Homo sapiens: one gene and its partners. The protein of the gene in region 1 purifies or fractionates together with the protein of each later gene. This does not show direct contact. Each region holds a gene or a part of one and is shown in the gene's direction. Other genes may lie near its edges. The genes, in order: PPP1R3A, ADISSP, PPP1R8, CNST, LMTK2, TPRN and YLPM1.

The links.
Region 2: the proteins of PPP1R3A (region 1) and ADISSP purify together in Homo sapiens (affinity purification with mass spectrometry, with the first as the bait; one large-scale study listed by BioGRID). This does not show direct contact.
Region 3: the proteins of PPP1R3A (region 1) and PPP1R8 purify together in Homo sapiens (affinity purification with mass spectrometry, with the first as the bait; one large-scale study listed by BioGRID). This does not show direct contact.
Region 4: the proteins of PPP1R3A (region 1) and CNST purify together in Homo sapiens (affinity purification with mass spectrometry, with the first as the bait; one large-scale study listed by BioGRID). This does not show direct contact.
Region 5: the proteins of PPP1R3A (region 1) and LMTK2 purify together in Homo sapiens (affinity purification with mass spectrometry, with the first as the bait; one large-scale study listed by BioGRID). This does not show direct contact.
Region 6: the proteins of PPP1R3A (region 1) and TPRN purify together in Homo sapiens (affinity purification with mass spectrometry, with the first as the bait; one large-scale study listed by BioGRID). This does not show direct contact.
Region 7: the proteins of PPP1R3A (region 1) and YLPM1 purify together in Homo sapiens (affinity purification with mass spectrometry, with the first as the bait; one large-scale study listed by BioGRID). This does not show direct contact.

What each region holds. Positions count from the first base shown.
Region 1 is NC_000007.14:113,912,510-113,916,009, reverse strand, and holds part of PPP1R3A (protein phosphatase 1 regulatory subunit 3A), read left to right. Parts: intron 1-3,500. UniProt on the Homo sapiens protein: Seems to act as a glycogen-targeting subunit for PP1. PP1 is essential for cell division, and participates in the regulation of glycogen metabolism, muscle contractility and protein synthesis.
Region 2 is NC_000020.11:3,761,254-3,764,753, reverse strand, and holds part of ADISSP (adipose-secreted signaling protein), read left to right. Parts: intron 1-3,500. UniProt on the Homo sapiens protein: Adipocyte-secreted protein (adipokine) that acts as a key regulator for white adipose tissue (WAT) thermogenesis and glucose homeostasis at least in part through activation of protein kinase A (PKA).
Region 3 is NC_000001.11:27,847,782-27,849,978, forward strand, and holds part of PPP1R8 (nuclear inhibitor of protein phosphatase 1), read left to right. Parts: intron 1-2,197. UniProt on the Homo sapiens protein: Inhibitor subunit of the major nuclear protein phosphatase-1 (PP-1). It has RNA-binding activity but does not cleave RNA and may target PP-1 to RNA-associated substrates. May also be involved in pre-mRNA splicing.
Region 4 is NC_000001.11:246,593,956-246,597,455, forward strand, and holds part of CNST (consortin), read left to right. Parts: intron 1-3,500. UniProt on the Homo sapiens protein: Required for targeting of connexins to the plasma membrane.
Region 5 is NC_000007.14:98,186,862-98,190,361, forward strand, and holds part of LMTK2 (serine/threonine-protein kinase LMTK2 precursor), read left to right. Parts: intron 1-15; coding exon 16-137; intron 138-3,500. UniProt on the Homo sapiens protein: Phosphorylates PPP1C, phosphorylase b and CFTR.
Region 6 is NC_000009.12:137,194,431-137,197,741, reverse strand, and holds part of TPRN (taperin), read left to right. Parts: intron 1-3,311. UniProt on the Homo sapiens protein: Essential for hearing. Required for maintenance of stereocilia on both inner and outer hair cells. Necessary for the integrity of the stereociliary rootlet.
Region 7 is NC_000014.9:74,769,816-74,773,315, forward strand, and holds part of YLPM1 (YLP motif-containing protein 1), read left to right. Parts: intron 1-1,876; exon of another isoform or gene 1,877-1,931; intron 1,932-3,500. UniProt on the Homo sapiens protein: Plays a role in the reduction of telomerase activity during differentiation of embryonic stem cells by binding to the core promoter of TERT and controlling its down-regulation.

The sequences.
Region 1 (3,500 bases):
AGAACAGCATGTGCCATAATAGAATATTTATACAGCTTTTCCATGATATAATTTATATGCAATGGGGTTTCAAATATTCCTAAAACTCACACAAGAGAGCATTATCAAATTTCTAAATGAATATTGCAGTTGGATTTTATTGTGAAGAGTTTGGTTAGAGAAAAATAGCACACCTTATCGGTGTTATTTTACAAAATGTGTACTTGACTAAAATAAAAATGAACTAATACTTATTTGATCAAAAATTATAGCTACTAAAATCTCTTCTCTCCAAATAGTTACAGAATCTAAATGGGTCATTTCTGAGCATTTCTACACTTCCTATGTAGCTTAATTTGGAGGTTATTTCTTTCAGAAGGTAAAAACAGAATATATATATGTATATATATGTATGTGTATATATATGTATATGTATATATGTATGTATATGTATGTATATATGTATATGTATATATGTATATACATATACATACATATATATATATGATTTTTTCTTTATACCTGCAAATAGATTAGTAATAGTATGTAATATCAGTCATAGCTAAAATGAAAATCAGGCTGCCCTAGTGTAGAGAATAACAGCTAACTTCAATTCTTCTTAATAAAAAAGTTAATTTGCTATCAGGGTGCCTGAGATTGTATCTTCTGAAAGTGTCAATAATCCCTTCTAATAAGTATGGAATGAATGAATGTGGAAATACATTTAGGTAGGATTTCTGTTAAGTCAATCACCCACCCAGGCATTATGTTTTCTCTATGGAGATTTTTCTCATGTTAAGAGTTTGCAAATCTCCACATTGGTGTGGGTTGTCTATTTTCTTTTGATGCCTGATAGTCTGTACACTTTGGACAGAAAGAAATATGTAGAGAGAAGGGGAGGCAGAGCTTGTAACTCATAGGCATGTGATTGAGAGTGACCCAAAGATATTTAATTGCACCGAAAGGCATGCATCATGAGATACTTAAGTATCACCACATATGCTAGCAAACTAAGCAGATTCCTGATATATCTGATGGGTTTTATTTTAAAATCAATGACAAAAATGACATTGATATAAATCACATTAAATGTACATAGACAAATAAGCTAAAATGGCATGCAAAACAATATAACCTCAAAGTTAGGATTTTAGGCTTCAAAGTTAAAGATATCTGAGTTTGAATCCAAGCTCTCCTACATGCTAGCAATATGAACTTGGGCAAGTTAAGCTTGTTTTTCTGGTATGTTAATTGAGAACAACTACAGCTCTATCTCATAGGGGTTGAGATTTCGGTGAAGTAATACATATAAACTTTTAGCACAGTGTCTGGAACATAATAAGTTATCAGTAAATGTTAACTGCTGTAAAAAGACAATGGTAACTTCAGCTTTAGGTGTATCTGAAAAACTGCAAGGCTCAAGCTGCACCAAAGTTCTTCTCCTCTTTCATTTCAGGGCTTCTAAATTTTCAGCTTTGGAGAGCCATTCCTTTGTCTCTTGCAAGATTTTAATCAACAAGGAAGACTAACTGAACTGTAAATTTTCTTGAGAAATGTGTCACTTTATATATGAATTATCTTAAAGCTGGAAGAGAACTTAGGAATGTTAAAATTTCCACATTTAATAGATGAAAAAATGAAGAACTAGACCAAAAGGGATAAAAAGGCATTCATTTAGGATTGAACAGACATGCATATTAATTTCAGTAAAGTTTACACTTAGTAGCTATGTGGCTGTGGGCATATTACTTCAGAGCTCAAAGCCTCAGTTTATTCACCTGTCAAATAAGGGTCATGATGTCTAGTGTCACATTGATTAAAATAAGTTTATATACTTAAAGCTTTTAATATAGCATGTTAGACACACATGAGGATATCATCAAAAGCCCTTCATCACAATTGTCCCTTTTATTATCAAATCTTGTTCAGCTAATGTCCTGACTCTTGAACTTGCATTATTTCTCCATACATCATAGGTTTCCTTGTTTCAGGCTCCAAAACTTATTCAACAAATGTTTACTAAAGAACTGTATGTCAGGTTCTGAGTTGTTAGGCAGCAGTATCGATAACTGAGAAATGTGGCTGGAGACAGGCGCCTGTGAAGACAAGAAGAGGCCCCAAGGGAAAAGGCCTTGAAAAGCAGAGAGAAATGAAGGGAAGAGAGAAAACACCAAAACCAAGTTCAGATTCTCTGGGTATACAGTAGAAGCCATAGATAAAAAATGAAATAAGAATTATTTCCACTTGAGGTTTTCTAGAATATGTGACCTAGAGCTGACACTGTGTACTTACTGGCCTGGGGGGTGGTCTCCCTTCTCAGCATCTTGGCTTTTTTTCCCCACTGCCTGCTAAATGTATGTTCCTAATGGCTGGGTACACCGGTTGAGTTCATCTGGTTTTGTATTTTATTAAGTGAAACCAATTTATTATTTTAAGTAAAGAAACTGCATGATATAGGTGTTTGATGGTATTTATAACTTGGCCAGGTGAATGCAAATAAAGTCCTAAATGACTTTAATGCCAAAGGAGAAAATTGATTAGTCCTCAATTTTTGTACTGTAGGAAAAAAACCAGGTACGTTCAGGAACAGGAAAGAGAGAACTCCTTTCTAAAACATAATTTTAAGAATACAGAGGGTTTATCTTTCAGGGTGGTAAAATTGTGAAAATGAGGCCAAGAAAAGCATTGGGAAATGGGGTCTAAGATATGGCTACATTGTGTGTTTCAGTCAGAGCTGTTGGATTGTGAGACTTCCTTAATTTACGCATACAGTATAATCTGGGGTCCTGGAAATAGTCCAAAGAGGTGTAAATAGCCCCACGAGGCCTTTGGGACCTCACGTATGCCATAACTAACTCGTTTTGAGTCCACACTAATTGTGGAAGCTGGGTCTGTTTAAGGAGGGACCTCTGGCAAGGCCACGTGGAAACATAAAACACAGCTGTGCAGGGCCCATCAGGAGGGTGTTTGAAAGCAGCCAGCTGGTTGACAGCGAGGTGCCAACTGGCTTCAAGTTTCCTTGGAGGTCCACCAAGGCTTCATGGTTTCCTGGTTTTGTGGAAATCCATACCCCATCCTAGACTTTCCCTAGAGTGATTTTGAAACTTTTCTGAGAGAAGAGGAACAAAAGGGTATCCTCCTTCAGGGTGTCTCTCATGCTGTGGCTGAAAGGAGTCACTATGAATGCCATGCCTCAAATGGATCCTCTGGGATCTCTGAGAGCCTATCCCTCCCCACCTGAAGCCCATCTGCAGCCTGTAAAAATAAAGCAGAGCCCACTATTTCTGAGCCAAAAATGCTCCTGGCAAAAAAAGAAAAGAAAAGAAAAAAGGAAGAAGAAAAAGATGGCACCGTTATGAAGTGGGTCAACTTAGTTTTTCACCTTCCTCCACTTCTGCTAACTGTGACTCTCATCCCTATTCCAGGTTTTTACCCCTACCCCTCAACAGGAAATAATGCAGGGGAAAAGACCTCAAGGGCAGATATCTGAAGTGGATCCGATTGCCCAGGGCCCTATCAAA
Region 2 (3,500 bases), on another chromosome or scaffold:
CAAATGTGATGTGGTCATTCATTCAACAAACATAAACCAAACACAGCTCCTCCCTGTCTGGTGCTGCGCTGAGTGCCGGGGACACAGGGTTTGACAAAAACACAGTCACTACCCTTGTAAGGTGAGGAAGAGGGATATCAAATGATCCCAGACATGAGAAAGGGGATTCCAAAAAGAGCTGTAGTCCTGTCCTGGGATTTGCAGGGTGTGCATCCTTAAAAAAGAAATGTTGGGGCTGAGACCCTGTCGAAGGTGTGGCTGGGAGGGACGGGATTGTTCCTGGCTGAAGGGATGACCTGGGCAAAGGCAGGGCGGGGGGACGGTCAGGCAGTAGGTTGGGAGGAAGACAGGGAGGGTGCCCTGCATGGACCAGTTCAGAGTGTTTTGTGAAAAGGGCCTGCAGCCTTTGCTCACCAGCCACTGGTGCAGTTTAACCAGAGCCTTCAGGAAGCATCCTGGGAGATGGGGGGACCTTGAGGACACTGGGCTGTCACTGCCTCCTGGCTGCAGAGGTGTGGCTGGAGCAGCCTCTGCAGGATAGGAGGGCCTCACACTCTTGTGCTTGGCCATTTGTCATATACTCTGAGTTCACAGCTTTGGGGGCAGCTGTAGTCGGGGGGCGGTTACGGCAGGCTGCTCTCCAAGACCAAGTTCCCTGGGGACAAGCTGAGCTTTCCAGGGCTGAGGCAACTGACCCCACAGTGGCCCTGGCCAGAGGTGAATGGGTGTAGCTCCACTTCCTGCACCCTGGGCTGGGGCCTGGAAGCTCACCTCCAAGAGGGGGTTGCTGGCCTGGTCCATTGGCCAAAGGGGGCTCCTGGTGGTACCCAAACTGTGAACACCCTGCCCATGAGGCAGGGCTTGGGCCTGGGTGGACTTTGCCCACATTGAGAAGTGGGGAGCGAGGTGAGGCCACATCTGCTCCCAGAGCAGCTTGGCACCAGAGGGACCTTGAGATCATGCCCTCCACAGGCCCAGCCCTAAACTATGAGGCCACCCTGTAGTTCCTCTTCTGTCCCTGGACTGATGAGCCAGTGTCACTCATCTCTAAGTTGTTCAGTATGTTTCCCTGACAAAATAAGGACATAATTCTTTACATAATACAATTCCATGATCAACTCATTTCTTAGTGTTACCTCATATCCAGGCCATTTACATTTTCCAGATCCCCCAAATGTCTTTTTTTTTTTTTTTTTGAGACGGAGTTTTGCTCCTTTTGCCCAGGCTAGAGTGCAGTGGCGCAATCTCGGCTCACCGCAACCTCCGCCTCCTGGGTTCAAGCGATTCTCCTGCCTCAGCCTCCCGAGTAGCTGGATTACAGGCATGCGCCACCACGCCTGGCTAATTTTGTATTTTTTAGTAGAGACAGGGTTTCTCCATGTTGGCCAGGCTGGTCTTGAACTCCCGACCTCAGGTGATCCGCCCGCCTCAGCCTCCCACAGTGCTGTGATTACAGGCGTGAGCCACCTCACCCGGCCTTTTTTTTTTTTTTTTTTTTGAGACAGAGTCTCGCTCTGTCACCCAGGCTGGAGTGCAGTGGCGGGATCTTGGCTCACTGCAACCTCCGCCTCCCAGGTTCAAGCGATTCTCCTGCCTCAGCCTCCTGAGTAGCTGGGATTACAGGTGCACACCACCATGCCTAGCTGATTTTTGTATTTTTAGTAGAGATGGGGTTTCGCCATGTTGGCCAGGCTGGTCCCAAACTCCTGACCTCAGGTGATCTACCCGCCTTGGCTTCCCAAAGTGCTGGGATTACAGGTGTGAGCCGCAGCGCCCGGCACCCCCCAAAATGTCTTCTTTGATAGGTAGTTCGAAACACCCTCTCCTTTATTTTTCTTCTTGCAGCTGATGTGGTGAAAAAAACAGGTCAGTTGTCCTGAAGATTATCCTTTTTTGGTCTGTTAAGTGTGTGTTGATCTAGAACAAGGGTTGGCAAACTTTTGCTCTGAAGGGCCAAATAATAAATGGTTTAGACTTTGCAGGCCATATGGTCTCTATCATAACTACTTGGAAGTAACTTTGTTTTAGTGCAAAAACAGACAACATGTAAGTGAATGAAGTGTAGTGTTCTATTAGTAAAACTTTATTTGCAAAAATTTATTTGCCAGGCCTGGCGGCTCACGTCTGTAATCCCAGCACTTTGGGAGGCTGAGGTGGGTGGATCGCTTAAGCTCCGGAGTTTGAGACCAGCCTGGGCAACTCTGTCTCTACAAAAATTAGCCGGGCATGGTGGTGCGTGGCTGTGGTCTCAGCTACTTGGCAGGCTGGGGTGGGAGGATTGCTTGAGCCTGGGAGATTACGGTGGCAGTGAGCTGGACTCCAGCCTGGGCTGGACAGAGTGAGACCCTGTCTCAAAAACAAAAACAAAAACACAACAGGCAGCAACCTTACCATCAGCTGTGTAATCAGCTGTAGTTTGCTGCTTTCCTATCTAGAATAATCTCCCTCGTTTTATTTTTCTTCTTTCTTTTTTTTTTTTCTTGAGACAGAGTCTCGCTGTGTCACCCAGGCTGAAGTGCCGTGGCGCGATCTTGGCTCACTGCAACCTCCGCCTTCCGGATTCAAGTGATTCTCCTGCCTCAACCTCCCAACTAGCTGGGACTACAGCTGCCCGCCACCACACCCGGCTAATCTTTGTACTTTTGGTAGAGACTGGGTTTCACTATGTTGGCCAGGCTGGTCTTGAACTCCTTACCTTGTGATCCGTGAAAGTGCTGGGATTACAGGCGTGAGCCACCGTTCCCAGCCTGCTTTCTTTTTCTTCTTGACATTTGAAAACAAAAACAAAAACAAAAAACAGGTCAGTCATCCTGTAGAATATCCTGCCTTCTGGGCTCGTCTCATTGCTTTCTCATGGAGTCATTAAATTTGTTCCCCTCTCCTCTGTGTTTTTAGCAAATGAGAAGTTGAAGTTAGAGGCTGGTTTAGATTCCAGGTTAAACCTTTTTGGCAGGAATCCCTTGTCAGTGATGCTGTGACTTTGGGCTGCCTTACTTCAGGAGGCATCAGTGTGACAGGCTGTCCTGCAGAGAGTAGAGAGATAGACCAGTGTGTGACTGGGAGAAGTCACATACCTCCATTGCAAACTTGTGCCATTCCTCTTAAACACCAGGTCCTCGGCCAGGCATGGTGGCTCACACCTGTAATCCCAACACTTTGGGAGGCCGAAGTGAGCGGATTGCTTGAGGTCAGGAGTTCGAGACCAGCCTGGCCAACATGGTGAAACCCTGTCTCTACTAAAAATACAAAAATTAGCTAGGCGTGGTGGCGGGCGCCTGTAGTCCCAGCTACTCGGGATGCTGAGGTGGGAGAGTCGCTCGAACCCAGGAGGCAGATGTTGCAGTTAGCCGAGATCGTGCCATTGCATCCCAGCCTGGGTGACAAGAGTGAAACTCCGTCTCAGAAAAAAAAAAAAAACAAAAACCATACCAGGTCCTCTGTCAGTGACGCTTGGGCGCCTGTGAGTATCTGCTTCCTGTCAACCTTCCCCTCTGGTTTAG
Region 3 (2,197 bases), on another chromosome or scaffold:
AAATACATACCATGCTCCTCTCCCATTTCTCATTCTGTGGAAATGAAATCTATGTTTAGGGAATCCTGGAGTACCACAGAAAGGCTGTAGATAACTAGCCAGCTTGATGTTTCATGTAAATAATGTGCAATATGAATCTGTAAATTCATTTTCCAGAGGGGTGCAGAGAGAGGCCCACCTTCTTTTGGCCTTTCTCTTCGGACTCAAAGTAAGCTATTAGGTGGAGGAGATGCATTATTGCAATACCACACAGTTTGCCATGCCTTTATTTTATGAGTGGCAATGGCACAGATAGGAATGTCAGCCCAGATGTGGATTAAATTTAAAGATAAGTATGTTGGCTGGGTGCGGTGGCTCACGCCTGTAATCCCAGCACTTTGGGAGGCCGAGGTGGGCAGATTACAAGGTCAGGAGATCGAGACCATCCTGGCGAACACGGTGAAACCCCGTCGCTACTGAAAATACAAAAAAAAATTAGTTGGGCGTGGTGGTGGGCGCCTATAGTCCCAGCTACTCAGGAGGCTGAGGCAGGAGAATGGCGTGAACCCGGGGGGCAGAGCTTGCAGTGAGCCGAGATCACACCACTGCACTCCAGCCTGGTCGTCAGCGAGACTCCATCTAAATAAAAAAGATTGTATGTTGAAGAACCAAGGGGTAGAAGTTACAGAGATGCTCCGATCGTTCAGCATGTGGAAGAACTATCAGATAGCTAGAACTGTCCAAACAGCAACAAACTTCCCCTTAAGAGTAGTGAGATCCCTGTTAATATTCAGAAGGTGATTAGAAAATGCTGGTTAGAGATGATATAGAAAGTTTTACTTTTTATAAAAAAAAAATCTCTAAAATATATTAGACTAAGTAAGATCTGTCAGAGTTCCTGCTTAGACTTTGTTTAATCCAAAAGGAGTATAGGATTGAGCAGGATGTTTCATGAGCTTTAGTCTAGTATGGAAAAGTAGATGTTTTTCTGTGGGATTCCATAATGCCCCTTGAGCTTTTTTGTTTGTTTGTTATTCCTTTGGAATGTTTTCTTGTCATTAAAGTACAAAATCAACAGGTGTATAGTTTTATGTCAATTTTATTGCAGTATAATTTACATATAATAAAATCTACACATTTACGTATATAGTTTTGGCAAATATATGTGTAACCACCACCATAATCAAGATAGAGAAGATTTCTCTCACTCCAAAAAGTTGCCTCGTAGCCCTTTGCAGCAGCCCACTCCCAGGCCCAGGCAGCCAGTAAATATTTTCTTCACTGTAGATTGGTTTTGCTCTCAGATTAATGTTTAAAAATTGGACACCAGGTCGGGCGTGCTGGGTCACGCCTGTAATCCCAGCACTTTGGGAGGCCGAGGCGGGCTGATCACCTGAGGTCCGGAGTTCAAGACCAGCCTGACCAACATGGAGAAACCCTGTCTCTACTAAAAATACAAAATTAGCCAGGCGTGGTGGCGCATGCCTGTAATCCCAGCTACTCCGGAGGCTGAGGCAGGAGAATGGCTTGAACCCGGGAGGCAGAAGTTGCTGTGAGCTGAGATCGAGCCATTACACTCCAGCCTGGGCAACAAGAGTGAAACTCTGTCTCAAAAAAAAAAAAAAAAAAAAATTGCACACCAAACATGGACATACCACATTTTTTCCCCCTCAAAAAAGGGTAAAATATCTATTGCCATCTTTTATCATTTCCATTTCCTAAAAGGGATTTTTTTAAAAATGTTTTTTATTTTTGAGACAGAGTCTTACTCTGTCACCCAGGCTGCAGTGCAGTGGCACCATCTCAGCTCATTGCAAACTCTGCCTCAAGTGATTCTTGTGCCTCAGCCTCCCGAGTAGCTGTGATTACAGGCACCTGCCACCACGCCTGGCTAATTTTTGTATTTTTAGTAGAGATGGGGTTTTGCCATGTTGGCCAGGCTGGTCTCAAACTCCTGATCTCATGTGTTCCTCCTAAAAGGGCATTTTAATATGAAATAAGAAAGTGAGCTATGTAACTTTAGGATAAATTAAATTGATATGTTTTACTTTATGTAAAACTCACAACACCATCCTTGGCTGATGTAGGATGGTGAAAACTTTGTTATGGAGCAGTGTTTGGGAACCATCGTAGATGACTGGAAAGGTCTCTTCAAACCGTAAGATTTCAACATCATGAAATAGGTTGTCTGGAAAGGAGAACAGGCTAGAAGTTAGGA
Region 4 (3,500 bases), on another chromosome or scaffold:
ATAAAGAATCTCGCACTGTTGCCCAGGCTGATCTTGAATTTCTGGCCTCAAGCGATCCTCCTGCCTAGGCCTCCCAAAGTGTTGGGATTACAGGCATCTTGTGATGTCTTTAAGAACTGATACTTAGTTGCATACCTATGAGTCAGTCATAGCTTTAAGATTGTGAGTCCTTTTACTCCTCCCTTCCATGGTCTTTATTCCACTTTTCTTAGGTGTGATTATATTATTATTATATTTATTTTAGAGACAGGATCATGCTACCTTGCCCAGGTTAGTTTCAAACTCCTGGGTTCAAGTGATCCTTTTATCTCAGCTTCTTGAGTACCTGGGACTACAGGTATACACCAGTGGGCCCAGCTTATAATTTAAAGTTATTTAGTATTTATAATACTGTGAGAAGATATGTTTAGAATTACTATTCCCTAATGCATTTGAAACATATGATTTATAAAATCTAGGGATAGTCTTTATACAGCTTACTTTAAACATTATTTTCTATATCTTATATAAAGTGAGTTTAAGAGAGTAAGAAAGGCCAGGCGTGGTGGCTCACACCTGTAATCCCAGCACTTTGGGAGGCTGACAGGGCAGATCACTTGCGCTCAGGAGTTCGAGACCAGCCTGGCCAACATGGTGAAACCCCATCTCTAAAAAAATACAAAAATTAGCTGGGCCTGGTGGCATGCACCTGTAGTCCCAGCTACTTGGGAGGCTGAGGTGAGAGAATGGTTTGAGCCTGGGAGGCGGAGGTTGCAGTGAGCCAAGATCCTGCCACTGCACTCCAGTCTAGGCGATAGTGCCAGACCTTGTCTCAAAAGAGTAAGAAAACAGAATGAGGAGTTATAAAACCCAAGTACAAATCTTATGATTCCAGGTCACTTGGTGAGACTGAAGCAGTCTCTACCTTGTTGTTGTCGTCTGTATAATGATGATCTTCATCTACCTAAATCTATGAAATTCCTTTTTAAGCTGTGAGTTTCTTAGATTTCATAGTAGAGATGGTATACTCTATACTTGAATAAAATGTGGTGATTCACCTCTAGTGCATCTATAGAGTTTTTATATTTTACAGATACATTTTTGTTTGTCTTTTAAGTTTTGTTGATAAATTAAAAGAAAGGATACTCCTGTCTGCCCGGGCTGGCCATGGACGAGGCGGGACTGAGTGTCCTGGGGTGAGTTAGCAGGGCACAGGTGTTTGAGATGGGGGACCCTTAATTTTAAACTGAATAGGATTCTTTTGGGTGTGGAATTAATCCTTTCTAGATGTGGAAGAGACCTAGAATGGGAAGAAGCTTTAGTATTGCCTGGAAAGCTTCCCTCAGAGTTTAGTTGCTGGGACCCCACCCTAAGAACTTGCTTCAGCCTGTCGTCTCTCAGTACGTATCCATCACCCGGTCTGAGTAATGTTATCTCCCTGTGATCTCTCAAGTCAGTCTGTTTCTCTCCATCTTCACTGCCACAGTTCAGCAGCATCTTCAGCTGGAGTACTGCAAAAGCCCCCTACATTTGTTTCCCATCTTGCTTCCATCCTCCATGTCAAAAATAATGCAAAGAGTTTATGCATAGGAGTTTAGACAAGGATGTGTTTACTCTAATTTTTCGGTTAAATTCTTAGCTCCTAAGTAAATAAAGTTTCAAATTTTTCAGACGTGTACTTTTCTAATAATTGAATAGCTTCTCAAATGTGAAATGACATATAAAAAACATGATATTCAGTTGCAAACCAGAAATGCAGTTTTTTGTAGGTAGATGTTCTTGTAACACTTTTTAGAAAATGTAAAATATAAAAATAAAGAAAAAAAAGACCAAAAAAAAGAACATGTAAAATAAAGTAAATTTATTCACTCTATGCTCCCTTGTCTAGTTTAATTTGTAGTCATTTTTCAATTACTACTGTCCAAAGGCTAGTACTGGAAAAAAAATGATAGTGCAGGACTCTTGTCACTAATAGTCATGTCATTCCTAATAGTCATGTCATTAGGAGACATGTCACTGTTTATGGGTTTGCTGGAGGCAGTATTTGTGTCAATGGGTAAAACCTTGATCTTAGCCTCAGGGAAGTCCAGTTGTCATCATATAATGAGCTTTTTTTTTTCCCCCTTAAGAGAATTGAATCCCCTTGATATGCTTAACTAAGCAGGATTTCAAGCTGTGTTACAACAAGTTTTCATTATAGGGCGGGTGCACTGGCTCATGCCTATAATTGTAGCACTTTAAGAAGCCAAGGTGGAGGATTGCTTGAGCCAAGGAGTTTGTGACCAGCCTGGGCAACACAGGGAGACCTCATCTCTACAAAAAGTAAAATAATTAGCTGGGCATGGTGGCACGTGCCTGTAGTCCCAGCTACTTGGGAGGCTGAGGTGGGAGGATCACAGCAGCAGTGAGCTGCATGGTTGCACCACTGCACCCCAACTTGGAGACAGAGTGAGATCCTGTCTCAAAAAAAAAAAAAGAAAAAGAAAAAATTTTTCACTGTAGTTAAAATGGCAAAGCTTTAGGTAAATATTATCCTAAAAACTAATGACCATTACTTATTTATTATTATTTTTCACATTCTTACCTGGGGGGAGAAAAACAATGGAAATTAATGTGTTTTTTAAACAGTTTTATTAAGATGTAATTCATATACATGCAATTCACCTACTTAAAATATATAATTCACTGATTTTTGGTATACTCACAGGGATGTGTAACCATCAGCAGTCAATTTTAGTATGTTTTCTTCACCACACAAAGCAGCCACTTACATATTAGCACCCACTTCTTACTTCCACTTAGACATCCTAACCTGAGGCAGCCATTAATCTACTTACTTTTTCTACAGATTTGTCTACTCTGAACATTGCATATTAGTGGAATCATACAATAGAAGGTCTTTGACTGGCTTCTTTCATTTAACATGTTTTCATGGTTGACCCATTTTGTAGCATATATCAGTACTTTGTTCCTTTTTGTGGTCAGATAATATTCTGTTGCATGGATAGACCGTATTTCATTTATACATCAGCTGAGGGATGTTTGGGTTCTTTCCACTTTTTGACTATTCTATGGACATTGCTGTACAAGTTTTTGTAGAGACATGTGTTTTCATTTCTCTTCGTTATATATCTCTAGGAGTGGAATTGCTGGATCATATGGTAACTTTATGCCAAACAGTTTTCCAAAGCAACTGCACCATTTTACAGTCCTGCCAGCACTGTATGAGGGTTACAGTTTCTCTCCATCTTCACCAACACCTGTTAATATCTGACTATTTGATTATCTCCATGTAGTTTTAAAAAACTTGTAATTCGTATACCATAAAATTCACCTTTTTAAAGGGTACAATTTAGTGGTTTTAGTATATTCACAAAGTTGTACAATTTAATTCCAGAACATTTTATCCTCCAGGAAGAAATCACGTACCCATTAGCAGTCACTCCTCATTCTTCCCTTCCCCAAGCGGTGGCTACCACTGTCCCATAAAGTTTGTATATTTGTATGAGACAAGTTTAGAT
Region 5 (3,500 bases), about 16 Mb from region 1:
TTTCTAACAAAACAGGAGGATTATATTGAAACAGATGATAAAAAAGTTTTCCCTCTGCGATGGACTGCTCCAGAATTAGTAACCAGCTTTCAAGACAGACTGCTAACTGCAGATCAGACTAAGTATAGTAATATCTGGTACGTATTGGCTTACCGTTTTATTAGTCATTTCTTTGGCAAAGTCCTAACTTCTTCCTCTTTGAGTACTTCCTTAAAGGAAAGTAGTTGTATAAGATGTAGGAACAAAAGAGTATCTGATGGTGTGAAAAAGACAGTTTAAAAGACACAAATAGTAATTATCACAATTGTGGTGATGGAGTTAACGTTTTGAATACTGCCCCTGCTACCCATTTTCCTTTAGAAAAGCAGGAACCAAGTCTGTTTCATATTCTGTGCCTCCCACAGGGCCTGACATGTAATAGATATTTAATATGTATTTATTGAAGTGAAAGAAGAAACTGAAAGGGGTGTGGACTATCATGTTTATACTATGATTTATAGGAGTCAGTTTAATGGGAGCTAAAAAGATGCACCTAAAACTTTGACTAACAATTTCTGTCACAGCCTTCTTAATTTATAGCTATGTTTTATGTGCTGTTGTCCTGCTTTTTTTTTTCTCTCCTTGCTTTCTTTTGGATTGATTTCTTTAAAACAATTTTTTTGCTTTTATTATTTTTTTCATTGATGCATATAATTGGACATATTTATGGGGTACAGTGATATATATATATGTTTTTGTTGTTGTTGTTGTTGTTGTTGTTTTGAGATAGAGTCTCACTGTCGCCCAGGCTGGAGTACAGTGGTGTAGTCTCGGCTCACGGCTCACTGCAGTGTCCACCTCCCTGGTTCAAGTAATTCTTGTGCCTCAGCCTCCCGAGTAATTGGGATTACCAATATGTACTACCACACCATTTTTGTACTTTTAGTAGAGATGGAGTTTTGCCATGGCTGGTCTCGAACTCCTGAACTCAAGTGATCCGCCTGCCTCGTCCTCCCAAAGTACTGGGATTACAGGCGTGAGCCACCGCACCTGGCCCAGTGTAATATTTTGATACCTATATACAGTGTGTGATGATCAAATCAGGGTAACTAGTATCCCCTTCACTCCAGACATGTATCATTTTTTCTTTTTGTTTTTGGGAACATTCAAAAGCCGCTCTTAGAGCTGTTTGAAAATATACAAAAATTTGTTGTTAATTATAGTCACCCTTCAGTGCTTTAGAACACTAGATCTTATTCCTCCTTCCCAGCCGAAATTTTGTATTCGTTAGTCAGCTTCTCACTATTCCTCCTCTCCCTCCCCTTCCCTGCCTCAAGTAATCACTCTTCTACTCTCTACTTCTATGAGATCAACCTTTTTATCTTCCACGAGTGATGAGGTTTTCTTCCTTTTTCTTTCCCCCTTGTGTATCTGCTCTACCTAGTGTATCGTGAGTCTGATACTTCTGTGTTTTTTCATGTTGATGGTTATCCTCCTTTAGCTTCCAGATACAGGACTCCTGGACCATTTCTCTTAAGGCATGTCTCATAATGATGAATTCCTTCAGTTTTTGCTTATCTGGGAAAGACTTTATTTCTCCATTTTTTAAAAAAAGTTATTATTATATATATTTTTTTAGTAGAGACGAGGTCATGCTGTGTTGCCCAGGCTGGTCTTGAACTCCTGGCCCCAAGCAATCCTCATGCCTTAGTCTCCTAGAGTGCTGGGATTATAGTCATGAGCCATCGCGCCCAACCCTCCTTCATTTCCGAAGGATATCTTTGCAGGGCATAGTGTTCTTGGCTGCCAATTTCAGTACTTTGAGTATACCATCCTATTCTCTGCTTCCCTCCTATGTGACTTAATGCTTTTCTCTGGCTGTTTTTAGAATTTTTATCTTTGTCTTTGGCTTTTGACAATTTGACTATAATGTGCCTCTGAAATGACCTTTTGGGGTTGATTGTATTTTAAGGACCTTTGAGCTTCCTGGATCTGGATGTCTGTATCTCTCCCAAGACTTGGGAAGTTTTTAAGCTGTTCTTTCCTTAAATAGCCTTTCTCTGCCTTCTCCTAGCTCTTTTATTTCTGTAACTCCCATAATGTGTGTATTTGTTTGCACTGTAGTCTCCCATAAGCCCTGAAGCCTCCCTTCACTCCTTTTCATTCTTCTGTCTTTTTCCCTCTGACTGGGTGATTTCAAACAACCTTTCTTCAAGTTGAGAGGTTCTTCTGCTTGAGTCTGTTGTTGAAGTTCTGTATTTCTTTTTATTTCATTTATTGAATTCTTCAGCTGGGCTTACTGCCTGTGAGGACCCCAGGCGACCCCAGTGTGAGGACTGTAGTGTCCACGGTGAGCAGTGTGAGGATGTAGGGGTCCACAGTGAGATCCTCTTACTTGCCCTTACCTGGAAGAGAAAGTTGCTCCTGGTTCCTGGCTGCGCCTGCCAGGGATGGGGTGGTGGAGGCCAGGCGTTTCCTTCCGCTCTCGCTGTGGCTGTCCTGAATCTCCTGAGTACCTGTTACTCCTTTGATGGGCTCTGGTGCTCTCCTTTAGTGATTTTTGTCAAAATGTAGTTGCTTCTTTGTTGTTTGGGGCGTGTCGTGGAGGGTTAGCTGGACATCAGAATCACTGGGGAACTTTTTAAAACGTGAGTTTTCTAGGCCACACCTGGATCTACCAACTAAGCATCCTTTAGGGGTGGATCTGACCTAGCAGTGTGTGTGTTCACGGCTTCCCAGAGGACACAGATGAGAGTCACGTTCGGGAACATTGCAGTAAATAGACACAAATGCGGGATGGAGGCAGTGCGTGGTGGGGAGGAAATGCAGAGACCTCGTGGAGGAAATGAGAGGCAGCTCCTCTGACCCAGGAAGCCAGCAGAGGCTGTTTCCATGGGGACAGAGCACCGCAGTGTGAGAGAGGATTGGGCTGGGACTGAGAAGGGCGTTCCTGCTGTGGTGAGGCAGCCCTCAGGGTCTCTCCTGGCACACAGCTGCCAGCGTGATGGGGGATCCCTTCAGAATAGCAGCAAAACCCACGATACTGAGGAGTAACTCAAACCAAACTTGTGGGTCTCACAGAGAGGATATCGTCTTGCCCATGTAAAGATTCCTTTTAGATGGTTTCTGGTGTTTACTAATGTTGTTAATAGGTGTATTTTTCTACCAAAAAAAAAAAATCAGAATTCAGGGTATTTATCTTGTTTCCAGCAATTCTGCCAAATTTTTAGAACATTCTGATGGTCTTTCCAATAATTTATTGAGTACTTAAAAGTTGATAGTCATCTCATCCACATAATTACACCTATTATCTCTGTTTTGTACTTTTTTCATTGGCCAAAACTTCTAGGGTGGTATTCAGTAGCAAATAGGAGGCATGGTCTTCCTCATTTTAACAGAAATGCCTCTTTTTTTGCTATTGTGCTGTTGATTATTGGTTTCAGATTAAAGAACAATCTTGGCTGGTTGTGGTGGCTCACGCCTGTAATCTCAGCACTTTGGAAGGCCAAGGCAGGTGGATC
Region 6 (3,311 bases), on another chromosome or scaffold:
TCAGTCTGATAGCCACAGCCTCTCTCCTCCAGCTCCTGTCTGCCTCTCCCTCCCCTGCGTCTGTACCTTTGGCCCTGGCTGCTGTGTGAGGTGGGCACCTCCTGGGCTTGCCCCAGAGGTGGCAGTGGGGACAGCTCCCCCTTTGTAGAGAGAAACTGCGCCTCAGCTTGGGAGTCAGACGGGGTCATGGGGCTTGTGGGGCGAGTACGGAGTTCAGGTTTCTGTTTCTAGAACCCCTCCCCTTAACCTGTGTGGCCATCCCTGGGAGCCTGGCTTCTTCCTGGGACTTGAGGCCACTGCCTAGAGTCTGGCCATCTTGCCCTCAGAAGGGACAGAACTGGGCTGGGCGCGGTGGCTCACACCTTGTAATCCCAGCACTTTGGGAGGCCGAGGCGGGTGGATCACGAGGTCAGGAGTTCAAGACAAGCCTTGCCAAGGTGGTGAAACCCCGTCTCTACTAAGAAGATATAAAAAAATTAGCTGGGCGTGGTGGCGGGCGCCTATAATCCCAGCTATTCAGGAGACTGAGGCAGGAGAATTGCTTGAACCCGGGAGGCGGAGCTTGCAGTGAGCCGAGATCGCGCCATTGCACTCCAGCCTGGGCGACAGAGTGAGACTCTGTCTCAAAAAGAAAAAAGCAAAGAAGGGACAGAACTGTGGGGGTCATTTGCGGCTGGGTTAGGGTCAGAAGGGCAGGGTGGGGGCCGGAGGGCCAACAGGAGCAGGAAGATGCAGTGGGGGAGAGGCTGAGCCTGGGAAACAGGCCCTGGACCAGCAGGAGGGAGGAGCTCGGGCCAGCCTGAAGGGGTGGGGGTCCAGATGGACGATACCTGGCATGGCCAGGTGGCCCGGGCAGGGCCCTGCCAGAGCAGCATGACCTGCTGGCTGTGACTTCCCGCCTGGGTACAGGCCAGCTGCCCTGCCTGGGAAGAGCCAGAATGTCCATCAGGAGGGGACAGAGGCGTGGGGCTGCCCTGCCTTTCAGAATGGCTTGCTGGCCTCGGCACGGTGGGCTGTGGGGCAGGGCTGTCCCATGTACTCTGTGGCCCCTGGGCCAGGAGCACTCACTGGTGGGGGTGCGAGGTGCCCCTGCGGGTCCTGTGCCTGGCCTTGTCTGACCACCCTGGCCAGCCTTTTTTTATTTTTTGTTTTTTGAGACAGAGTCTTGCTCTGTCGCCCAGGCTGGAGGGTAGTGGCAGGATCCCGGCTCAGGGCAAACTTCATCTCCCAGGGTTCAAGCGATTCTCCTGCCTCAGCCTCTCAAGTAGCTGGGATTACAGGCGCCTGCCACCATGCCCAGCTAATTATCGTATTTTTAGTAGAGACGAGGTTTTACCATATTGGCCAGGTTGGTCTCGAACTCCTGACCTCAGATGATCCGCCTGCCTTAGCCTCCCAAAGTGCTGGGATTACAGGCGTGAGCCACCGTGCTGACCCCAGCCTTTGGTTGGGACCACTGGCTGTGACCCCCGGGCGTGGGGGTGGAGTGCAGGGATTGCAGGGCCCGGAGTCTAGCAGGACCTGACTGTGGGCCAACGGCTCACTGTGCACCTCAGCGGCTGGCGGTGCTGCTGCTTTTCCTGGGGTACAGGTGAAGGGCAGCTCTTCAGTGGAGTTGTCTGGGTGGTGGGAGTCGGTGAGGGGCCTGCCCCAGGGCTGGCTGTGCCTGCACAGGGTATGATACCCTTGCCCGCCTCCGAGGGGTGCAGCCCTGCTCTGGGCAGTGGGGAGCTGCTGGCCTGTGTGCCGGGGTGGGGGCCTGCCTGGCAGGCACAGGCCCACTTAAGTTATCCATTGGCAGAAGCGGCAGGTGCCCCGTCTTGCAGGGCTGAGCTTGGAGCAGACTGCTGTGTGCTGCAGCCACGCCCGGGCTGCTTTCCTGGAGGGTGGGACACCCATTCTCATCCTCACACCTGCCTCCCTTGAGACTCGGCGCTGTAGCTTTTCCTCTTCGTGGAGCACCACCTGGCCTGGCTCCTACCTGTCTGGCGGCCCCTTCCCGTCCCCTCTGCCCTACTCCCCTCCTCCCCTCTTGGCTCTCTGCCCAGCTGGAGCGTGTCAGTGTCCCCAGGGCTCAGTCCTGGACACCCAGGGCCGTCCGCCCTCACCTGCTGTGCAACTTCCGCCTCCACTCCCAAGGCCTCGCTCTCTGATCCTTAGACCCAAGAGCCACCCTGACATCTGCCCTTCCTACTGACACCACCTCCTGGCCAGCACCAAGCCCCAGGCTGGGCTCCTCCCTGCCTCTACCCCTGTGCAGGCAGATCCTGGGTGGCCAGAGGCTCTCACTGTTGTTGGCTGAGTCCCTTCTTGTCAGTTTTCCTTTCCTTCTCGTCTCTCCGCCAGCTCTTCCCATAGGTGCCGCCTAGGTGGTCCTTCTGAAGCCGGGAACCCCAGGAGCGGCCTGGACGCTCCTCCCTCAGCTTTCTCATGGGTGGAGGCCGTGCCTGGCGCTGGGGCCACACTTGACTCAGGGAGCACCCAGCTTCCCGGGAGCCTGCTCTGGGCATTGCACTCGTGCAGCCTGGTCTAGGGTCCGGCCACCCGTGGGAGCCTTGGCTGGGGCTGCGTGGGGGATGGGAGGCAGGTAGCTGTGTGCAGGGAGGAGGGAGAGGCGGGGCTGGGCTCAGCTCACACCTCCATCTGGGCAGGTTGGGGCTGGCTGCTTGGCCCTTTGTCCCAGGTGGAGGCCAGGCCCTTTGGTAACCAAAGCTAGGTGTGCACAGGCAGGGTGGGTGGAGCGAGAACAGAAGGGTCCTGAGAAGCCGGGAGGCTCTGCTGGGAGGCTGGGCTGAGCTGGGACCCACCTGCCTGCTCTGTTGGCTGTGCCAGGCAAAGTCCCTGATAGGCTGCGGCCAGGTGCGTGCGGTCCCAGACCCTGGCCACACCCTCTGCCCATCCTGCGTCTCGGGGTCTTCAGGCTGCCCACCGTATGAGTCACGGGGTGTCCTGTCCCCACAGTGGGAGGGGAGGGCTGTGCGAGTCAGCAGGCACCAGCCCAGCTGAGGAGACCTGGGGAGGCAGGACGTGACCAGAGCCCCGGGCCCCAGCTGAGGGCAGACAGGGGCTGCCTGTCCACCCCCCGCCCCGCACCGCCTGGCCAGGCTGTACCAGGCTCAGGGCCCATGTGCACCCAGCCCCCGCGGCCCCCCTGCTGGGACCGGTCATGTGCACGAGTGAGGGCACTAATCCCGCGGCCCTGGCAGCCAGCCCTTCTGTGTTCTCAGCCGTGGGGGCTGGGCCTGGAGGGCTTCGGGGTCATCTGGGTTAGCTCCACATATCCAGGGCGACTGGAAACCCCATTTGCTGCT
Region 7 (3,500 bases), on another chromosome or scaffold:
GGAGTTCAAGGCCAGCCTGGGCAACAAAGTGAGACACCCCCCCCCCCGCCCCCCGCCCACAAAAAGTTTAAAAAACTAGCCAGGTGGCCGGGCGCAGTGGCTCACGCCTGTAATCCCAGCACTTTGGGAGGCCTAGGCGGGCAGATCACGAGGTCAGAAGATCAAGACCATCCTGGCTAACATGGTGAAACCCCATCTCTACTAAAAATACAAAAAATTAGCCGGGCGTGGTGGTGGGCGCCTGTAGTCCCAACTTCTCAGGAAGCTGAGGCAGGAGAATGGTGTGAACCCGGGAGGCGGAGCTTGCAGTGAGCCGAGATCGCGCCACTGCACTCCAGCCTGGGCGACAGAGTGAGACTCCGACTCAAAAAAAAAAAAAACCTAGCCAGGCATGGTGTTGCATGCCTGTAGTGCCGGCTACTTGCGGGTGGCTGAGGTGGGAGGATTGTTTAAGCCCAGGAGTTCTCGTGCCACTGCACTCTAGCCTGGGCAACAGAGTGAGACCTAAAAAAAAAAAAAATGAGTAGGCCAGGTGCAGTGGCTGATGCCTGTAATCTCAGCACTTTGGGAGGCCAAGGCAGGCGGATCACTTGAAGTCAGGAGTTCAAGACCAGCCTGGCCAACATGGTGAAATTCTGTCTCTACTACAAATACAAAAAATTAGCTGGGTGTGGTGGTGCACGCTTTTAATCTCAGCTACTTGGGAGGCTGAGGTGGGAGGATCACTTGAACCCAGGAGGCAGAGGTTGCAGTGAGCCAAGATTGCCCCACTGCTCTCTAGCCTGGGCGACAGAGTGGGACTCCATCTCAGTTAAAAAAAAAGAAAAAGAGTAGAAATTAACCAGAAGTTAGAATTCAAAGAATTAAGTTCAATAAGGCTCACTGAAAGCTCAGGGTGAGGATGGTAGGTATGAACTAGATCAGGGAAGGCCTGTAAGGACTTCATTCTAAGGGCAGTTGGAAGCCATTGAAGGATTTTACATAGGTGAATGTGACAGATTGGCATTTTTGAAAGCTCACTCTGCTTGCAGTGTGGAGAGCAGAATTAAAAGGAGCAAGAGTGATTTAGAGAGAATAGTTATTGAAGTAATCCAGGCAAGAGATAATAGTGGTTTAGACTTTGATGGTATTAGTTGAGATGGAGAGAAGTGGGAAGAGTGGAGAAATATTTAGCTGCTAGAATTCACTTTGAGGTTGAGTAGTTATGGAGAGGGAGGCATCAAGAATGATTCTTAGGTTTCTGGGCTGGGCCGTAGGGTGGATGGTGGTCAAATTTACTAAAACAGAAAAACCTAAAGGAGGAGGAGGAAGAACATTTCTGGGGGTGAGGAGAAAATCATGAGTTAGGTTTCAGACATACTGAGTTTGGGGTTCTTGAGACATAGATTCCAAATGGAGATGTCCACTTGGAAGTTAGATATAGCTCTGGAGTCTAGATGTAAGATCTGGGAGACATAGATTTATAAGTCATCAGCATAAAAATGGTATTTGAAGACACAGAAATAGATGAAGCCTCTCAAGGAATGTGTGTAGAGTAAGAACTGAGGTTAAAGGACATTAAGCCTAGCTCCACAAATAGCAGTATCTAAGGGAACCAATGAAAGAATGGCCAAATAGGTATTCATATTAGGTTGGTGCAAAAGTAATTGCAGTTTTTGCTATTACTTTTAATGGCAAAACCACAGTTACTTTGGCACCAGTGTGATAGGTGGAAAATCAAGATAGTGGATAGTGCGTTGCCATGAACGTCAAGGAACAGACTCTAGGAGGAGGGAGTCGTCAGCTGTGTGAAGTACTGCTGAGACGTCAAGCAAGATAAAGACTGCGAGTTATCTTTTGCACCTACTGACATGTAGATTATTGTTGACCTTGGCAGGAGCAGTTTCATAGTGACTGAAGCCATATTGCATTGATTTGAGGAGTGATGGAAGGTGAGGAAATGGGGATGGTGAGTACAGACAACTCTTTCAAGAAGTTTGACTGAAGGAGAGAGAGAATGAGGGAAGGAGCTGGAGGAATAGATGAAGTAAATGAGCATTTAAAATAAAAATAGGTGGGGACTAAGCTTATCTGGTGACCCTGATTCTTACAGTAGAATGTGAATCTCAAAAATATTTAAGCCTATTTTAAATAAATTTCTAAAATGGAAACCCAATTCATTATTTTACCAGGTGTCCTCCCTGCCCCCTGCTTTAGAATATAAGACATAGAACATTGTCTTATAGGCATTTATGATAACCTGGATAGGGAAGGTAATCTTCTAAAATTAATCTTTAAAACATTACACACAAACACTCACCTCCTTTATAGTTCTCCACTTGGAAAATCATTTAGTATCTAGTTCATTACTAGCAGCAGTGGTCAGTAAGTGCTTCCTGAGTAAATTAAAATCAACATCTTTCTTTTTTTTTTTTTTTTCTCAGAGAGATGGGATCTTGCCATGTTGCCCAGGCTGGTCTGAATTCCTGGGCTCAAGCGATATTCGTGCCTCGGCAGCATCTTTCTTAATAACAGTATTTGTGACAAATAGTTCTATATTCTTAATTTTTTTTTTTTTTTTGAGATGGAGTCTCGCTCTCACCCAGGCTGAAGTGCAGTGGCGCGAGGATCTGGGCTCACTGCAACCTCCGCCTCCCAGGTTCAAGCGATTCTCCTGCCTCAGCCTCCCGAGTAGCTGGGATTACAGGCATGTGCCACCACACCCAGCTAAGTTTTGTATTTTTAGTAGAGACAGGGTTTCACCATGTTGGTCAGGCTGGTCTCGAACTCCTCACCTTGTGATCCGCCCGCCTTGGCCTCCCAAAGTGCTGGGATTACAGATGTGAGCCACCGCACCCAGCCAATAGTTCTACATTCTTTATGTTTGAAATCCCTTCATTCAATCTCGTTTTAAATGTGACCTATATTATGATTTCCCTCTACCTATAAAACAACATCCCATATGAAATGGAGTTATCTGATATGATGGGACATTCAGAAGAGCTGGCATCATTAGCAAGTTCAGGCATTTTTTTTCTTTCTAAAATAGGGATGATCACACTTCTCTTAGGGTCAGTAAGGACATTTGTGAGTGATATCATTATTATTTATTTGCAGAGCTTCAAAAATGTGCTGAAGCCTACCATAGGATTGAATTAGATCTGGTTACTACTTATAGGGTTCATATTAAATAGAAATTGACCTACAAGGCGGCCGGGCACGGTGGCTCACGCCTGTAATCCCAGCACTTTGGGAGGCTGAGGTGGGCGGATCACAAGGTCAGGAGATCGAGACCATCCTGGCTAACATGGTGAAACCCCGTCTCTACTAAAAAATATAAAAAATTAGCCGGGCGTGGTGGCGGGCGCCTGTAGTCCCAACTACTCAGGAGGCTGAGGCAGGAGAATGGCGTGAACTCGGGAGGCGGAGCTTGCAGTGAGCCGAGATCGCGCCACTGCGCTCCAGCCTGGGCGACAGAGCGAGACTCCATCTCAAGAAAAAAAAAAGAGAAATTGACCTAC